Linked DNA regions of Homo sapiens: region 2 is linked to region 1. The links come from fine-mapping of genetic effects on gene expression. Tissue or cell type: whole blood. Region 1 holds a variant in brackets; the other region holds the start of a gene. All regions are shown on one strand. Distances are between the middles of the regions.

Region 1 (8,112 bases):
GGGTTTCACCATGTTGGCCAGGCTGGTCTCGAACTCCTGACCTCAGGTAATCTGTCCGCCTCAGCCTCCCAAAGTGCTGGGAGGACTAGCTTCTTTCTGGTGTCAGCCAGCAGCTCCTTGGATTCCAATGAGTCACCCTGGCTTTGAACCTCAGTGCCTCCACCCGTGAGCTGCAGCAGCATCAGTCAGGCTCAGCCTTTCCATCTGTAAAATGCGGATACCGTGGAATGTCTCAGCAGCTTGGGAAGATCAGAGGGAGCAAAGGCAGAAGACAGGGGCTGGCTGTGTTTTCTTGAGATTTAGGAAAGATGATCTTAGGGAGGGAAACTCAAACCTGGATACACACCAGCCTCACCTGGGGTATCTGTTAAGATATAGACTCCCAAGTTCTGAGTCTGTCTCTCCGATGGAGGGACCTGGAATCATTATTTCAAACATGCTCTCAGATGCCTGTGACCCCAGTAAGGGCCATGCTGTCCTCCAGGTTCTGTAAAGATGTCAGGACATGCTCTGGGCTTCGGCCTTCAGCGAAGAAGTTCTTTTAAGTAACAAGGAAGCCACTTCTTTGCTTGCTGTTGAGGGCATGATGTCACCCAGTGCCTCTTACAGCAGAGCACGTAAGAGCTTTCGCCTGGCATGGTGTTAAGAAAACCCATCTCGCTAAGAAACTGACATGCTTCTCCTTTTCCAGTAAGGAGAACTGAGTAATGTATCCTGTTTCCCTTTTTGCCCCAGCTGCCAGGAAGCTCAGGCCAATCCGAATCTCATCAGCAACAACTCATCATTTGGCATATTTCCCTCTGCTTTTCTCATTGGTCTTGATCTTCTACTTTTGTATTCCTAGCTTTTTGTGTATGTGGGAGATGGAGATTCTCAATATAAAAGGAAAGGAGGAGGGAAGGAAGAAAGGCAGAATAAAGATATCCATCATGGGACACCACACTTAAAATTTTGGCCGCCAGCCTGCTGTGTGCCCTCAGGTCACTCACTCTCACTCTCTGATTCCCTCTACCCTCCTCACCCCCATCAGTCTCCCCTGCAGCCTCTCCTTTCTCTGTCTTCCCTGAAATGTTTATTCCCTTATTCATTCAACATATATTTATGGAATACCTATCTGTTCTGCTCCATAACAAATGACTTTGAAACGTCTTAGTGGATTTAAACAGCATTGATTTTGCTCACGAATCCGCAGTCTAGGCAGGGTCCCCCTGGGAGAGCCGGTCTCTGCTCTTCTTGAGGTCGGCTGGGGTGTTAATATCTGAAGGCTCAAACATGTGTCATTTCTTGGTGTTGGGGGAACACTAGCTATTTTCAAAATCTTCCCATCTAACTATTTTGAAATATACAAAAATCGTCCGCTATAGACTTCCTGCTGTGTTATAGAACGATAGAGATCATTCCTCCTATCCGGCTGTCATTTTGTACTTGTTAACCAATCTCTTCCTCCCCTCTGCTCCCCGATCCCCTTTCTATCCTCTGGTGACCTCCATTCTACTCTCTGCCTCTGTGAGATTGACTTTTTAGCTCCTACATATGAGAGACAATTTGTCTTCCTGCGCCTGACTTAATTCACTAACATAATGTCCTCCAGGCTCATCCGTGTTGTTGCAAATGATGATATTTCATTATTTTTTATGGCTGAGTAATATTCCACTGTGTATATGTATCACATTTTCTTTATCTATTCATCCACTGATAGACACTTAGGTTGCTCCCATATCTTGGCTATTGTGAATAATGACACAATAAACATGGGAGTACAGACATCTCTTCAACATGCTGATTTTCTTTCCTTTGGACATATACCCAGGAGTGGGATTGCAGGATCATATGGTAGCGCTAGTTGTAGTTTTTTGAGGAAGCTCCGGACTGTTTTCCATAACAGCTGTACTGATTTACATCCCCACCAACAGTGGCCGAGTTCCCCTTTCTCTGCATTCTTGCCAGCATTTGCCATGTTCTGTCTTTTTGATTATAGCAATTTTAACTGGGGTGAGATAATATCTTATTGTGGTTTTATTGTATTTCCCTGACGACTGGCAACGTTGAACATTTGTTTTTCATGTTATCTGTTGGCTATCTGCATGTCTTCTTTTGAGAAATGTCTATTCAAGTCTTTTGCCCATTTAAAAATTGTATTTTTTTTTCTTCCTGTTGAGTTATTTGAGCTCCTTCTGTGTTCTGGACATTAATTCTTTGTTGGGTGGATAGTTTGCAAATATTCCCTCCCATTCTATAGGTTGCCTCTTCTCTCTGTGGATTGTTTCCTTTGCCATGCAGATGTTTTTGGCTTGTTGCATTCCCCATTTGTCTATTTTTGCTTTTGTTGCCTGTGCTTTCGAGGTCTTATAAAAAAAAAAAACACTTTGTCCAGACCAATGTCCTGAGGCATTTTCTCTATGCTTTCTTCTAGTACTTTCCTAGTTTCGAGTCTTACATTTATGTCTTTAATCCATTTTGAGCTGATTTTTGTGTGTGGTGGGAGACAGGGGTCTAGGTTCCTTCTTCTGCATGCTGATATCCAATTTTCCTGGTCCACTTACTGAAGAGACTGTCCTTTCCTCAGTGTATATTCTTGGTGCCTTTGTAAAAAACCATTTGGCTGTAAATACGTGGATTTATATCTGGGTTTTCTATTCTGTTCCATTGGTCTATGTGTCCATTTTTGTTTTTGTTTTTGTTTTCTGAGACAGAGTCTTACTTCTTGCCCAGGCTGGAGTGCAGCAGCGCCATCTCCGCTCACTGCAATCTCCACCTCCCGGGTTCAAGCGATCCTCCCACCTCAGCCTCCCAAGTAGCTGGGAATACAGGCAAAAGCCACCATGGTTGGCTAATTTTTGTAGTTTTAGTAGAGACGGGGTTTCACCTTGTTGGCCAGGCTGGTCTTGAACTCTGACCTCAAGTGAACTCCTGCCTCAGCCTCCCAAAGTGCTGGGAATACAGCTGTGAGCCACTGCACCTGGCCTATGTGTCTACTTTTATGCCAGTACCATGCTGTTTTGGTTACTATAGCCTGGTGGTATGTTTTGAAGTCAGGTAGTGTGATGCCTCCAGCTTTCTTCCTTTTGCTCAAAGGCCCTGAATGCTTTGTCCATACAGATTGCATACAGATTTTAGGATTTTTTTTTTCTATTTCTGTGATGAATGTCATTGATATTTTGGTAAAGATTATATTGAATCTGTAGATCCCTTTGTGTGGTATGGACATTTTAACAATATTAATTCTTCCAATCCATGAACATGGGTTATTTTTCCATGTTTTTGTGTCCTCTTCAGTTTCTCTCATCAGTGTTTTATAATTTTCATCATAGAGATCTTTTCCCTCTTAGGTTAAATTTATTCATGGCTGGGCATGGTGGCTCACGCCTGTAATCCCAGCACTTTGGAAAGCCGAGGCGGGTGGATCACGAGGTCAGGA[G/A]ATAGAGACCATCCTGGCTAACACGGTGAAACCCCGTCTCTACTAAAAATACAAAAAAAAAAAAAAAAAATTAGCCAGGTGTCATGGCGGGCATCTGCTGTCCCAGCTACTCGGGAGGCTGAGGCAGGAGAATGGCGTGAACCCGGGAGGTGGAGCTTGCAGTGAGCCGAGATCGCACCATTGCACTCCAGCCTGGGCAACAGAACGAGACTCTGTCTCAAAAAAAAAATTATTCGTAAGTGTGGTTTTTTTTTTTTTTTTGCAGCTATTATAAATGGGATTGCTTTTTTCTTTTTCAAGTTGCTTCCTACCGGTGTAAAGAAACACTTCTGATTTTTGTATGTTGATTTTGCGTCTTGCAACTTCACTGAATTTATTAGTCCTAACCATTTTTGAATGGAGTGTTTGGGTTTTTGTAAATATAAGATGATGTCATCTGCAAAAAGGGACAATTTTACTTCCTGCTTTCCAGTTTGGATGCCATTTTTTTCTTTCACTTGCCCAATTGCTCCGGGTAGGGCTAGAGTTTCAGTTTTGCAACCTTAAAAAAGTTGCACATTGTGAATGTACTTAATGTCACTGAACTTTACACTTCAAATGGTAAAAATGGTACATTTTCTGTTATGTATATTTCACTACAATTAAAACAACACAAATGAAGCCCTACAGAAAAGTTTTTTAAAAGGCCACCAAAAACCCTAGAAAGCTCTGGGAGGCACCCAGTGCGAGACCCGCACAGAGGGGCTCAGGCCTGAGATCAGGCCACCAAGCTGGGCAGACATGGCCAGCTCCTCCCCGTTACTGCTGGCTGCCCCGCTATAGTGAGCTTCCCTCTCTGGGCCTCAGCTTCCTTTTCTGTAAAACAGGGTTAGTGACCAGGTGCGGTGGCTCATGCCTGTAATTCCAGCACTTTGGGAGGCCGAGGTGGGTGGATCACCTGAGATCAGGAGTTCGAGACCAGCCTGACCAACAAGGTGAAACCCTGTCTCTGCTAAAAATACAAAAATTAGCCGGGCATGGTGGCAGGCGCCTGTAATCCCAGCTACTCAGGAGGCTGAGACAGGAGAATCGCTTGAACTCGGGAGGTGGAGGTTGCAGTGAGCCGAGATCGCACCACTGCACTCCAGTCTGAGTGATGGAGTGAGACTCCGTCTCAAAAACAAAACGAAAAACAGAAAACAAAAACAAAAAAACCGGGGTTAGTGACGACGCCTCCCTCAAGGGAAGGTTGTTTTTGTTTCATTTTTTCAAACAAGGGAAGTTTTGCAGAATGTAATGAAATAATCCATGTAAGGCAGTCAGCACAGAGCACGGCCACGAGTGGCCGAGGGAAGTGGGCCTGGGGTCTCTCAGCTCTCCAGAGCCGAGGCCCACAGGAGGAGCCAGACCAGAGTCGGGGCAGGGGTCTGGCCCTCCTTGCCCCACCCCTCGTCGGTTTCCTAGGTGACCAAAGCCAGCCCGCGGGCTCCCCTGCGTGGTCGCCGCGGGGATGGCACTCAGAGAACCCACCGCCTGGGGCTCCCCTGTGAACGAGGGGACCTCTGAGGGTCCTTCAGCCCCAATACCCAGGTATCCGTGGGGCTGGATTCTGGCCGGGAACAGGGCTGGACCCCTAGGAGCCCGTCACATGGGGGAGGCAATCCAATCCAGGATGATTCCGCTGACACGTAACGAGTTCTTGAAACAGTATGAACGGGAGTGGTAAGGATGGATTCCACATGGGGAGAACTGGGGAAGGGGTTGTCAGGTGTAGGGGTTGGGTTAGGAGAGCTGGCTTGGAAGAGGGAAGGGCACCGGGTGGTGGGGACAGCATGTGCAAGCCACAGAGGTGGAGACTGGGCGACCTCTGTGTACACTGGTGGGCAGGAGCACGCACTTAACGCTGAGTGAGTGTATGCGTGTGGCTTTAGCGGGAAGCAGGGGGGATGAACCTCAAAGGAGAAATGGGCCAGGTGCCCACGCCTGTAATCCCAGCGCTTTGAGAGGCCGAGGCCAGCGGATCATCTGAGGTCAAGAGTTTGAGACCAGCCTGGCCAACATGGTGAAACCTAGTCCTTACTAAAAATACAAAAATTAGTCGGGTGTGGTGGCACATGCCTGTAATCTCAGCTACTTGGGAGGTTGAGGCAGGAGAATCGCTTGAACCTGGGAGGTGGACGTTGCAGTGAGCTGACATCTCACCACTGCACTCCAGCCTGGGCCACAGAGTAAGACTCTGTCTCAAAAAAAAAAAAAAAAAGAGAAATGGGAGCCAGGTGGTGAGAGGCTCTGAATGCCAGAACACCATTTACTCTTCTTATTTTTTTCAGATTGGCAATAGGTAAGAAAGAAACCCTCCTTGGTGGGAAATGTCTCTTGTGCCAGATGCCTTGTCCCAAGTGCTCCTCAGTACAACCCTTTGAGATTCTGTTATGAGCCTGCCTTGCCTATGAGTGAGGCTGAGCCTTGGAGAGGTGTCCTCACTCCCTCTGGGTCACATGCCAGATGGTGGAGACCTGAGAACCGGGAACCAAGGTGAGCCCTGATTTGCAGTTTAGAAAGGTCACTCTGGCTGTCATGTGAAGGAAGGACTTGATGGACAGATTAAATGCAGACAGGCCTCTTAGGAGGCTGTTACAAAGGCCCAGGCCAGGGGTGCTGATGGTTGGGGGTACAGAGGATCTGGGGTGTGAGGGACCTTTGTGAGAGGTAATTAGATACTGAAACTGACTGGTCCTGGTGAAAAATCGAGGGTGAAGGTGAGCAGAGTGAAGGATGACTTTGAGGTTTCCAGCCTGGGAGACTGGCGGGTGATGGTGCTGTTTCTACAGGGGGCTGAGCCAGCTTAGTGGGCAGTAGGTTAATGATGGCTGCAAATTCTTTTTTTTTTTTTTTTTTGAGATGGAGTCTCGCTCTGCCGCCCAGGCTGGAATGCAATGGCATGATCTCGGCTCACTGCAACCTCCACCTCCCGGGTTCAAGCCATTCTCCTGCCTCAGCCTCCCAAGTAGGTAAGACTACAGGCATGTGCCACCATGCCTGGCTAATTTTTTGTATTTTTAGTAGAGACAGGGTTTCACCGTGTTGGCCAGGCTGGTTTCAAACTCCTGACCTCAAGTGATCCGCCCGCCTTGGCCTCCCAAAGTGCTGAGCCACTGTGCCCAGCCGATGGCTGCAAATTCTGTGCTCCTCTTTCCATTGAGCGGGGGAGTTTATTCCTTTCTTAGTACCTGGGCTTGGGCCCAGGACTCACGTGACCCATGGAACAGAGGTCCAGCTGGTATTCCATTGCCTGGCTATGGCAACTCGTTCAAGAGTGGTTTGGTGACCTGAGTAAGTCCAGTGAGATTCAGTCCTGGGACTTTTGCTGGAACAACTAGACAAAGAAAACTCCTTTCCAGTTGTGATGTCCAGCTGGGAAGATGATGTGAATCTGGAGTTCTAAGTACCAGAAGGATCCTAAGAATGAAGCCACAGCAGAGGAAGGTGAGTGGGGAGATGTGCAACAACAGCTATTGAGGCTGGATGGTATCATATGGGCCTCTGCATCATCAATGCTGGAAGCCCAGACAACTTGGTTACGTGAGCCAGCTAATTCCCTTTATGGCTATGACAAATATTAAAAAGTAGGCTCACTCAACAGCTATTCTCAATCCCTCTCCAGCTCTCCTTCCTCTACTAACTACAGAGTCTGAAACCTAAATTGTTATTTCCCAGCCTCCTTTGCAGCCAAGGATGGCCATGTGACCTTTCTGGCCAACCAGGGTCCCTGGAGAGGGTGGCCCTTCCTGAATAAAAGGAAATTCTCATGAGGAGAAGGCAGTGTTTGGCCCCCTTCCCTGCTGCTTGGAAAGTGGGTGTGAGGCTGGCAGGTGCAGCCAACTTGCAGCTCTCAACGGTAAGCATGAGGGGCAGAGCAAGTGCTGAGGGTGATGGGACCAAAACACAGAAGGGCCCAGGTTTCTGATGGCACTGCTGGGCTGCAGCTCCAGTCCCAGGCTGCCTCCTGACACCCTGCTGAGTGAGATCAACAAAGCCCTGCCCGAGCAAGCCCTGCTGCTTGTCTGCAGTGGAGTATGAGTGTGCTGACACATGGAGTGAGACAGAGGAGCCCAAACCAGTGCAAGGAGACAACTGGAAAAATATTGAAAAGGGGAGGGAGTGGCCCTAGCCAAGTGATGCAGAGAGGCAGGGTAGGAGTGGGCTAGGGCCCAGGTCGACTCACTCACCTTCCATTCTACCCCGCCTCACCCTCCTATACTGCAGAGGCTAGCAAGCTAAAGCCACCCTTCCTCCCGGATCCCTTGCAGCTATGATTCTGGATGTGAATTAGATCCTACCAATGGGATTTGCTCCCATGAGATTTGGAAAGCAGCTGTCTTCTTGCTGCTCTTGGCAGTCATTGCTGGCAAGTGACCTTGTGGGTGTCAATAAGCAGTTGCAGCAGAGGACGCAGTGCTGGACCCTGTGTCGTAGTATCTGGACTCTGACTTCCTGAGGCTCAAGATTCGGGTACAGCAGTGGTGGTAGCATCCTAACCCCTGGGTGGCAGCCACAGTGGGGGGTTTAGAGGTGGCCCCTGACTCCTCACCTTCCTGGCTGTGGCCTCGGTGGCAGCCCCTCTTGGTCAGTTCTGTGGTGTCCTGGGAGTCATTTCTGGAAACTGGCCCTGGAGCACGCTCCCTGAGTACATCTTATGATGTTGTAGGTGCTGA
Region 2 (8,112 bases), 80 kb after region 1:
GCTCCACACCTGGAATATAAGTAAAACTGCTTACTTACCAGGTTTTTCACCAAAAAATAAAAGTTGCTAAGAGTTAACATCGTAATATGTTATATGTAATTGAGACTACTAGAGAAACAGTTTTATATGCAAGGTGTGTAAGGAAAATTGAATATGCTTTTGGTAAGAAGATTATAAGAAAGCATGGGAATGTGGACTTTCCCCCTACTTTAGAGGGTTAAAGGATTGTTTCAAGTTAGGTAGGATAAAGCTGAAGGTTTGAGCAAGTTATGGAAGGTTTGTGAAAGATTAATCTTGTAAAAGAAATTCTGTGTGAACTTATTGGCTTAAATTAAAGGGATATTATTCAGTTTTTCCATAAATTAAATATGGAATAAAAGTATAACAAGGTTTTCTTAGAGCACTGGTATACTCTTTAACAAGAAAATTGTAAAGAGCTATAAAAGGTTTATGAGACTCTTACCTCATGGTCAAACATTAAAATTGGATAGAGTTGTCTATAAGGCTTTATTATGAATTGGGTTTGACATTAATAGTACACAAATGCAAAGGTAAAATTTGGCTTTCTCTCTTGAACAAGTTTTTCATGTAATATTGAAAAATAATTAAAGATTTTTGTTTGCCTTTTGAATAAGCTATAGAAAAAAGAAAGGAACGAAAAGAGACAGTTTTTTTTGGAAAGCTAAGTCTTCCCTTTATCGGTGAGTAAAGGTTTTTGCCCTTAAAAACATCTTTGAGTTATCATTTTGGCCAAATAAATGACTTATGGTGACCTGGGATGCTATTTTGTAGTATCAAATGTTTTAAATTTTTGATATTTGACAAACTTTCCAAAATCAAATTCTAAGTTATGCCTTTTTCTAACCTGATTAGTCCTTTAGATATTAGGTCCCCTAAAGTCCAAAAATGACATATTTGGCTTATTTGGTACATTAAAATAATACAGGAAGCATTGTCAAATATGAAATTGTGTTTGGCTTTCTTTGGGCTGTGTTTATATAAATATGTTATTGGTATGTGTTCCAAAATTATGGGAAACTCCTATAATTCTGATATGAACATTATCAATACTAATGGACATTATCAATAATAATTATAATTGTTATGATGTTAATTTATTATATGCCACAGAGGTATCCACATTTCCTAGTCAATGATATTAATTCTTTAACCATGACTGCTCTAAGTCTTTCTGTCATCCATAGACAATTGTTGTCTTGCTTTTATTCTCTTCAAAAGGTGGTTTATAATCAGCTATAGGACTCTGATGAGTACTCTTAAATGCAGAGAAAAAGAAAACATCATCCAAGACTCTTGGAAAACTAACACATATATATCAAGCAAAACAGGAATTAATTGCATAGACTGAACTAATAAAAGACTGAAATAATCTTTTATGACTTTTTGCTTAAAATGTTGTTGATCTTTCTGTTTTGTTTTTCAGAGTCAAGAAACCCCCCCTTCTTGAGCTATTTACAGCTTTTAACAATTGAGTAAAGTACGCTCCGGTAAGGATTATAAAACAAAGTTTTGTCCAAAAACAAAATTTGGAATATGTTTTTTTCTCTTTACCTGATTTCTGCAGAATTTGGAAACTATTTGTGAGTGTTCTTAACTTACGGCAATATAGTTATTTGCATAAGTGCAGTAAGAATCTGTTTTTCCTTCTTTCTTCTTTTTTTTTTTTTGTAACAGGACACAATTGGAGAAACTGGTTATTTAACAAGGGTTTGACTCGAGTGGCATGCTTTCAAATATAAACAGACTTCTTTAAGGAATTAAAGTTGACTAATAGAGCCAATAAAAGCCTCTTGGAAAAACTGGTCTTGTACCTTGTGTATGAAGTCCCTGTATAGGGTTCCTGACCTGTGGTAAGTAAAGAATGTAACTTTCTGACAGGCCTGGGAGCCCCGAGTTATCTCGGGACCTCAAGAGGAGAGGAATTTATCTAACTCATACAGGTTCTTGCAGGCATAGGTAAATCCATGGCTGGGCTCAAAGCTTTAAAACATCTAATCTAAGATACCTTATGAAACAAAGCCAATTTTAAAAGGAGCCTGTATGGCAAATAATTATACTTGCTGCACTTTATGCAAATAATGAAGCCAAGTATAATAAGACTAAAGCTTATTTTGCAAATAAATTGGTCCTACCATGATTTGTTTTTAATAAAAAATGGGAGACTGGAGAGAGAAAAACGGTGTTTCAAAAAATATGGTACACCTGTCATAGATTCTAGTCTCATCCATTGTTTTTGAGTTTTTTGTCTGCAATTTAGACTGACCTTGCTTCTTTCTGTGAACCAAACAGTCATCTCTTGACTGCTTCTCGTCAGAAACAAGAGGGATGGATAACATAAAAATCTGGATCAGTATCTAATTCTGAGCATGTATTGGAATCGTCTAGCAACTCCGTATCAGCTCATCTAGCAATTCCTGTGACTAAGAATGCCTAACCTCCTGGGAATGCAGCCCAGTAGGTCTCAGCCTCATTTTACCCGATAAGTCACAGGCATTCTTGCCCAGTTCATGGAAAGCCTTCTTATTTGGATTACTTGGGATAATTTTACTTATTTTACTTTGCTGTTGTAGAATATATTGCTGCTATACTCTTTGTGTAAGAATGCAAGATAAGCTTACTCAGTGCTTCCTTAAATTGAACACATTAATCTTCCAGATATCACCTTTTGTTAGGACTCAGAGTTACAAATGACTCTGAACACACCAACATTTTCTTACTCAGTTCCTCTCTGCACCAAACCCAAGAGACTCTAATAGTTAGGCAGGAATATCATCGCCTCTATTCAGCCTGAAGAAGTTACAGAAGATGGATCTTCATGCCTCTACAACCCTTAAGATTAAACGTTCCCTCGTAAAAGAGAGTAGGGAAATATGTCAGAGGTGTTCAAAATAGGGCAACTCCATCTTGAATAGGGGCTGGGTAAAATGAGGCTAAGACCTGCCAGGCTGCATTCCCAGGAGGTCAGGCATTTGTAGTCACAGGAAGGGATAGGAAGTTGGCAGGACTGGTATCACAAGATACAGGTCATCAAGACCCTGCTGAGAAACAGTATGCGGTAAACAAACCAGCCAAAACCTGCCAAATCTAAGATTGCAATGAAAGTGACATCTGGTCATCCTTATTGCTCATTGTATGTTAATTAAAATGTGTTAGCTTGCTAAAACACACTTCTACCAGCACCAAGACAGCCTACAAATACCATGGCAATGTCCGGAAATTACCCTATATTGTCTAAAAGGGGGAGGAAGCCTCAGTTTCAGGAAATTCCCACCCCTTTCCTGGAAAACTCATGAATAATCCACCCCTGTTTAGCATAGGATCAAGAAATAACTATAAAAATAGCCAACTAGCAGTGCTTGGGGGTGCTCTGCCTATGGAGTAGCCATTCTTTTGTTTCTTTGCTTCTCTAATAAACTTGCTTTCACTTTGCTCTGTGGACTTACCCCAAATTCTTTCTGGTGCAAGATCCAAGAATTCTCTCTTGGGGTCTGATCAGTACCCCTCTCTGGTAACACTTGCATGATACCTGAGGAGGTCAGCCTGGTCATTCACCCAACAAACATGGGTTAAGCCCTCCCATGTGCCTGGCACAAAGGGGGCTGAGGACTGCAGTTCTGGAACACCTAGGCTCTGAGAGGCGACGCGACTGTGGTAGCAGGGCCAGGATTCTAGCCTGTGCCTGGAGGGCCAACACCTGCACCTTCTCTGCTACCCACCCTGCCTCTGTGACTCAGAGCAGTTAAGCACTTTAGCTCAGGGTGGACTCAGGGCTGCCTCCCCCTTCCTGAGCAACCTAGGGGCTCCTGTGCCCCATGCCTGTGTCCATTTCCCAATCATCAGGGGGCCTCAGACTCCTGCCTGCTCTGACTTTCTAGGCCTTTGAATCAAGCAAGACCCCACTGGATCACCAAAGAGTTAAGCAAAGGAAATCCCTGCCTCCCTTTATCTCCGCAGAACCCAGAGGCTGAAAGGGAGGGAGCAGGGAGGAGGGGAAGTGGGAAGCGGCTCTGCCCTCTCCCTCCGCCCTCCCTCCGCCCTCTCTCCCTCCATCCCCTCCTCTCTCCCTCCTCTGCTGGGCCTGGGGGTCTGGGCCAGCAACAAGTTAGTATTGCAGACATGGGCCAAGGAGCCAGAGGCCATGCAGTGGCTCAGGGTCCGTGAGTCGCCTGGGGAGGCCACAGGACACAGGGTGAGTGACCAGAGGCTCCTCAAGCTTGGGGGCTGGGGTCAGAGCCTGGAATTCCTCTCCTCCCTCCTTGCTTCCTGGAAGCATCTCGGGCCCTGCTCTCTCCCTCTGACTGGGACAGCCTCTCCAGGCTCTCCCCTCCACATTTCCTCCTGCCTCTGGCTGAGGGCTGCGCTCCACTGCTCCCGGTTTGTGCCCGCCCCTACCCGGGCACACACAAACTCAGCTCTGCACGGCCTGCCTGGACCGAGAAAAGTTGCCCTGCCGCTCCCTCCCCAAAGAGGTCCCAGTGGAAGCAGCAAGGACCCCAAAAGTCCTCCCTATGACTTGGTTCCCACACTTGGTCCCTGCCTGGCACCCACCCCCAGAGCTAGTTCGTGATCCTGGCTGTGGTTATGATTCCTCGTTAACGGCTTCCTGATTCCTGCTCCCAGGCCACGGTTCTGTGTCTCACAGCCTTTGACTCCCATCCGCTGGGGCCAATAGGAAACAGAAATGCTCCCAAACCATGCCAGTCCTCTGGGAGAAGTTCTCCTTCCCATCCCATGCAGGCACAGGGAAGAAGTCAAAGCACACTTTTTTTTTTTTTTTTAAGTCTTTTATAAGGCAGGCACTTTTCCTGCATTGAAATCCTTCCAAATTACCTGGGAGGGAAAGGGTGGTGTCATTTCCTTGTAAGTATCAAGGAGCAGGAAGCCCAGAGAGGTTCAGCCACTAGCCCTAGGTCACACAGCTTGCAAACTATTCTGGGTCTCAGATTTGACTCTAAGACCTCAGCTTTTCTCATGAGGTCATATCTGTGGCTGGGAAAAAGAAGGGAATTTTGGGATTTCCAAAACCACTGGGATTTGTCATTTATAAGTAAAAGTTGAGGATGACAGTCTCAGACAGGGAGGATGTTGATCTCTGAGGATTTGACCTCCTTATTGAGCAGAACCAGGAACCCAACCAGGGTGGGCAGAGAGAAGCTTGGGAAGAGTCACCTCCAGGAAGAGGGAGGTGGCTCTGGAGACTTCCTGTCCAGCCCCCTTCTCCTGCTGCTACCATCCAGCTCTGGGGGTGGGGGGCAGGGCTCCTGCCGCTTTATTTATTTTTAGTTTTAATTTTTGAAAAATAGAGACAGGGTCTCACTATGTTGCCCAGACTGGTCTCGAACTCCGGGACTCGAGTGATCCTCTCTCCGTGGCCTCCCAAAGTGCTGGGATTGCAGGAGTAAGTCACTGCACCTGGCCATCCTGCCCCTTTAAAACTCTGCCCTCACCTCAGTGCTCAGCTGAGACAGGGTGGCATTTTAAAAAGTAATAATTGTACCTTGTCTACATGTATTAACCACAAAAAAAATATTTTTGAATTCTACTAAATGTTAAAGGAGAACAAAAAGGAAATAAACAAAGAAACGCCAGAAGTGTAAAAACCAGTCTGGTTTCAAAAGCAGAGTTTCTGATCCTGTGATAACTCGGCACCAGCCCCCAGAAGCTGCACCACCTCAAAGGTCTTTTTGCCCGGCTTCCTGCCCACCCAACCCAGGACTGTCTCTAGCGCCTGGTGTCCAGGCTACTTCCTGCCTCTCTCCTGGAGCCCTAGACCCCTTCTTGGCCAAGGCCAGAGACAGATCCTCACCAACACTTACACTTTTCTGATCCTTTAGAATTTTTTATACCTCCTAGTCCTACCCCTTAATTCCAATTTACCACCTTGGCATCTGATTGGCAGGTCTACGATGATTGACACAACCATCTTCCAATGAACTAACTCTCTCTACAGAACCCTCCCTGCAGGGCTTCTGGATAAGGTTGGGTTGCATAGATAGTTGACTGCACAAAGGTGCTGAGCAGGGAGGTGGACTAGCGCCAGCCCTTGCCAAGCTGCACACCCTCAGCATCACGTCCCTCCAACGGGGACTCTTATCATTTCTAATTTGTCCAGAGGGGCACCTTCTTTGCTTTGCACAAAGGCACTCTAAAGACTAGCAATGGGCTGCAGTCAAGGACCCAGTATTCCTTCTCCTGACTGCTCAGCGATGCAATGACACCATCACCGCGCACCACCCCACATGCTCTCATGGACGTTGCTTTCTGTCTGCTAGGATCAATGAACTCTCTTATCTCTTTTTTTTCAGAACTATGGTGTTCTCACACCAAAGCATGGGCTCGGCCACCCATCCCCTCTCCTGAGAACAAGCCTCCAGAACCCTCCACGTTTGTCCCCAGTGTTCACTAACCTCAGTCCTCCTGCCCGGAGGGCATGTGTTTGCTGGAGATAGTGGAGTCGGTGGCAAGAAAGTGCCAGAGGGAGGTGCGCGGGCGGGAAAGCATCTGACGGTCTCCTGGGTTGCCACCCATGGCCAGCTGGGGCATCTTCTCACCTGCCCCAGCAAAGCTTCCTGGGATCCCTGTCTGCTCTCAGCTGTGGCTGTTTTCAGAGGGGCTTCATCCTTCCAAGGCCTGTGTGGAGCAGAAGCCTCCATGGACTGGGTGCCCGGAGACTCAGCATGCAGGCCCTGCCCTGCCAGTCTCCTCCCGATCTTGGGGAACTTGCTGCTCTGTGGAGGTCTCAGTCTTCTTGTCTGATAGATGGGGACAATAACCTTCCCTCTGGAGTTAGGTCAGGAGTGCTGTGGCTGGAGGACGCAGCACCCGCCCACCCCAGGCATCGGCACATAGTAGATGTTGAGTGAAGTATAGTTCCTGTCCCTCCTTCCTTGTTCCAGGTCACCATGGGGACAGCCGCCCTGGGTCCCGTCTGGGCAGCGCTCCTGCTCTTTCTCCTGATGTGTGAGATCCCTATGGTGGAGCTCACCTTTGACAGAGCTGTGGCCAGCGGCTGCCAACGGTGCTGTGACTCTGAGGACCCCCTGGATCCTGCCCATGTATCCTCAGCCTCTTCCTCCGGCCGCCCCCACGCCCTGCCTGAGATCAGACCCTACATTAATATCACCATCCTGAAGGGTGAGTGCCCTCCTGTGGGGCCTGGTAGTGGGCAGGGAGGGCCAGGGAGCTGAGGTGGAGGGAGTAGAGGGCAGGGCGGAAACCTGTCCAGACTCCTCTTTCATCCTGAGTTATTGAGCCCCAATGTGAGCCTGGTCTGTTCCAAACACTGATGACGGAGCGTGAACAAACCAGACCAAGATGCCTCCTGCCTGAGCACCCGTTCTCGGTGGGGAGATGGGCTGTGAGCAAGGCACACATCACCTAAGTTAGTGGAGTGGAATGTTCGATGGTGATCAGTGCTCTGGGAAATGAAAAGGGGCTTCAGGAGTGCGGGTCTGGGCTGCAGGCTGCATATTGAATGAGGTGGTCAGTGGAGGACCCATGGAGCACAGGCTTCTAAGAGGTGGTGGAGGAGCCTCCTGGCAAAGGGCACAGCTGGTGCAGGGGCCCTGGGGCAGGGCCGGGAGATGCACCAGGCTCAGATCACATGGGGTGCTGTCACCACCCGGCTACTGTAGGGACTTGGGCTCCGCTGAGTGGAGTGGGAACAGGGGCAGGTTTGGGTGGGACAGGGACTTGATCCCACCCAGGTTTCAAATGGATCCCTCTAATGTCATGTGGAGAGCAACCAGCGGGGGCCGAGGGTCGGAGCATGCAGCCCTGTGGGGCCTGTCCAGGTGAGGGCCATCCAGGTGAGGGCTGTCCAGGTGAGGGCTGTCCAGGTGAGGGCCCGTCCAGGTGAAAGGCATCCAGGTGAGGGCCGTCCAGGTGCGGGCTGGCTACCCGCTCTCTCAATAGGACGTGGAAGGACTCGCTTCCCTTCCAGGCTGTGGTGGCTGACGGCTGTGACCAGGCCTTGACATCCTTAGCGTCCGTCTCTGCCCACAACAGCCCGTGAGGTCGATATTTTCTTATTCCTCCCACTTTGCAGATGGGGAAACCCAGTCTCCTGGGGCCACACAGCTGTCAGGGATG

Evidence for each region. PIP is the estimated chance that this variant, and not a neighbour inherited with it, causes the effect.
Region 2: it holds the start of C1QTNF6, and the variant in region 1 is fine-mapped to the expression of C1QTNF6 in whole blood (Lepik 2017, PIP 0.90).

Annotation. Positions count from the first base shown.
Region 1 is chr22:37,263,987-37,272,098 of GRCh38, reverse strand. It overlaps LOC107985576 (a long non-coding RNA gene), which reads left to right and starts at 6,542. Exons shown (of 3, transcript XR_001755534.1): 1 at 6,542-7,295. RefSeq lists enhancers at 4,552-4,741, 4,762-4,821. The variant G/A (reference allele first, on the strand shown) is at 3,419.
Region 2 is chr22:37,184,261-37,192,372 of GRCh38, reverse strand. It overlaps C1QTNF6 (C1q and TNF related 6), which reads left to right and starts at 4,126. Exons shown (of 3, transcript NM_031910.4): 1 at 4,126-4,210; 2 at 6,918-7,155. The coding sequence starts at 4,160. IL2RB-AS1 (IL2RB and C1QTNF6 antisense RNA 1) reads right to left here. Exons shown (of 2, transcript NR_199008.1): 2 at 5,551-8,112. RefSeq lists enhancers at 2,483-3,116, 3,117-3,752, 3,753-4,386, 4,387-5,022.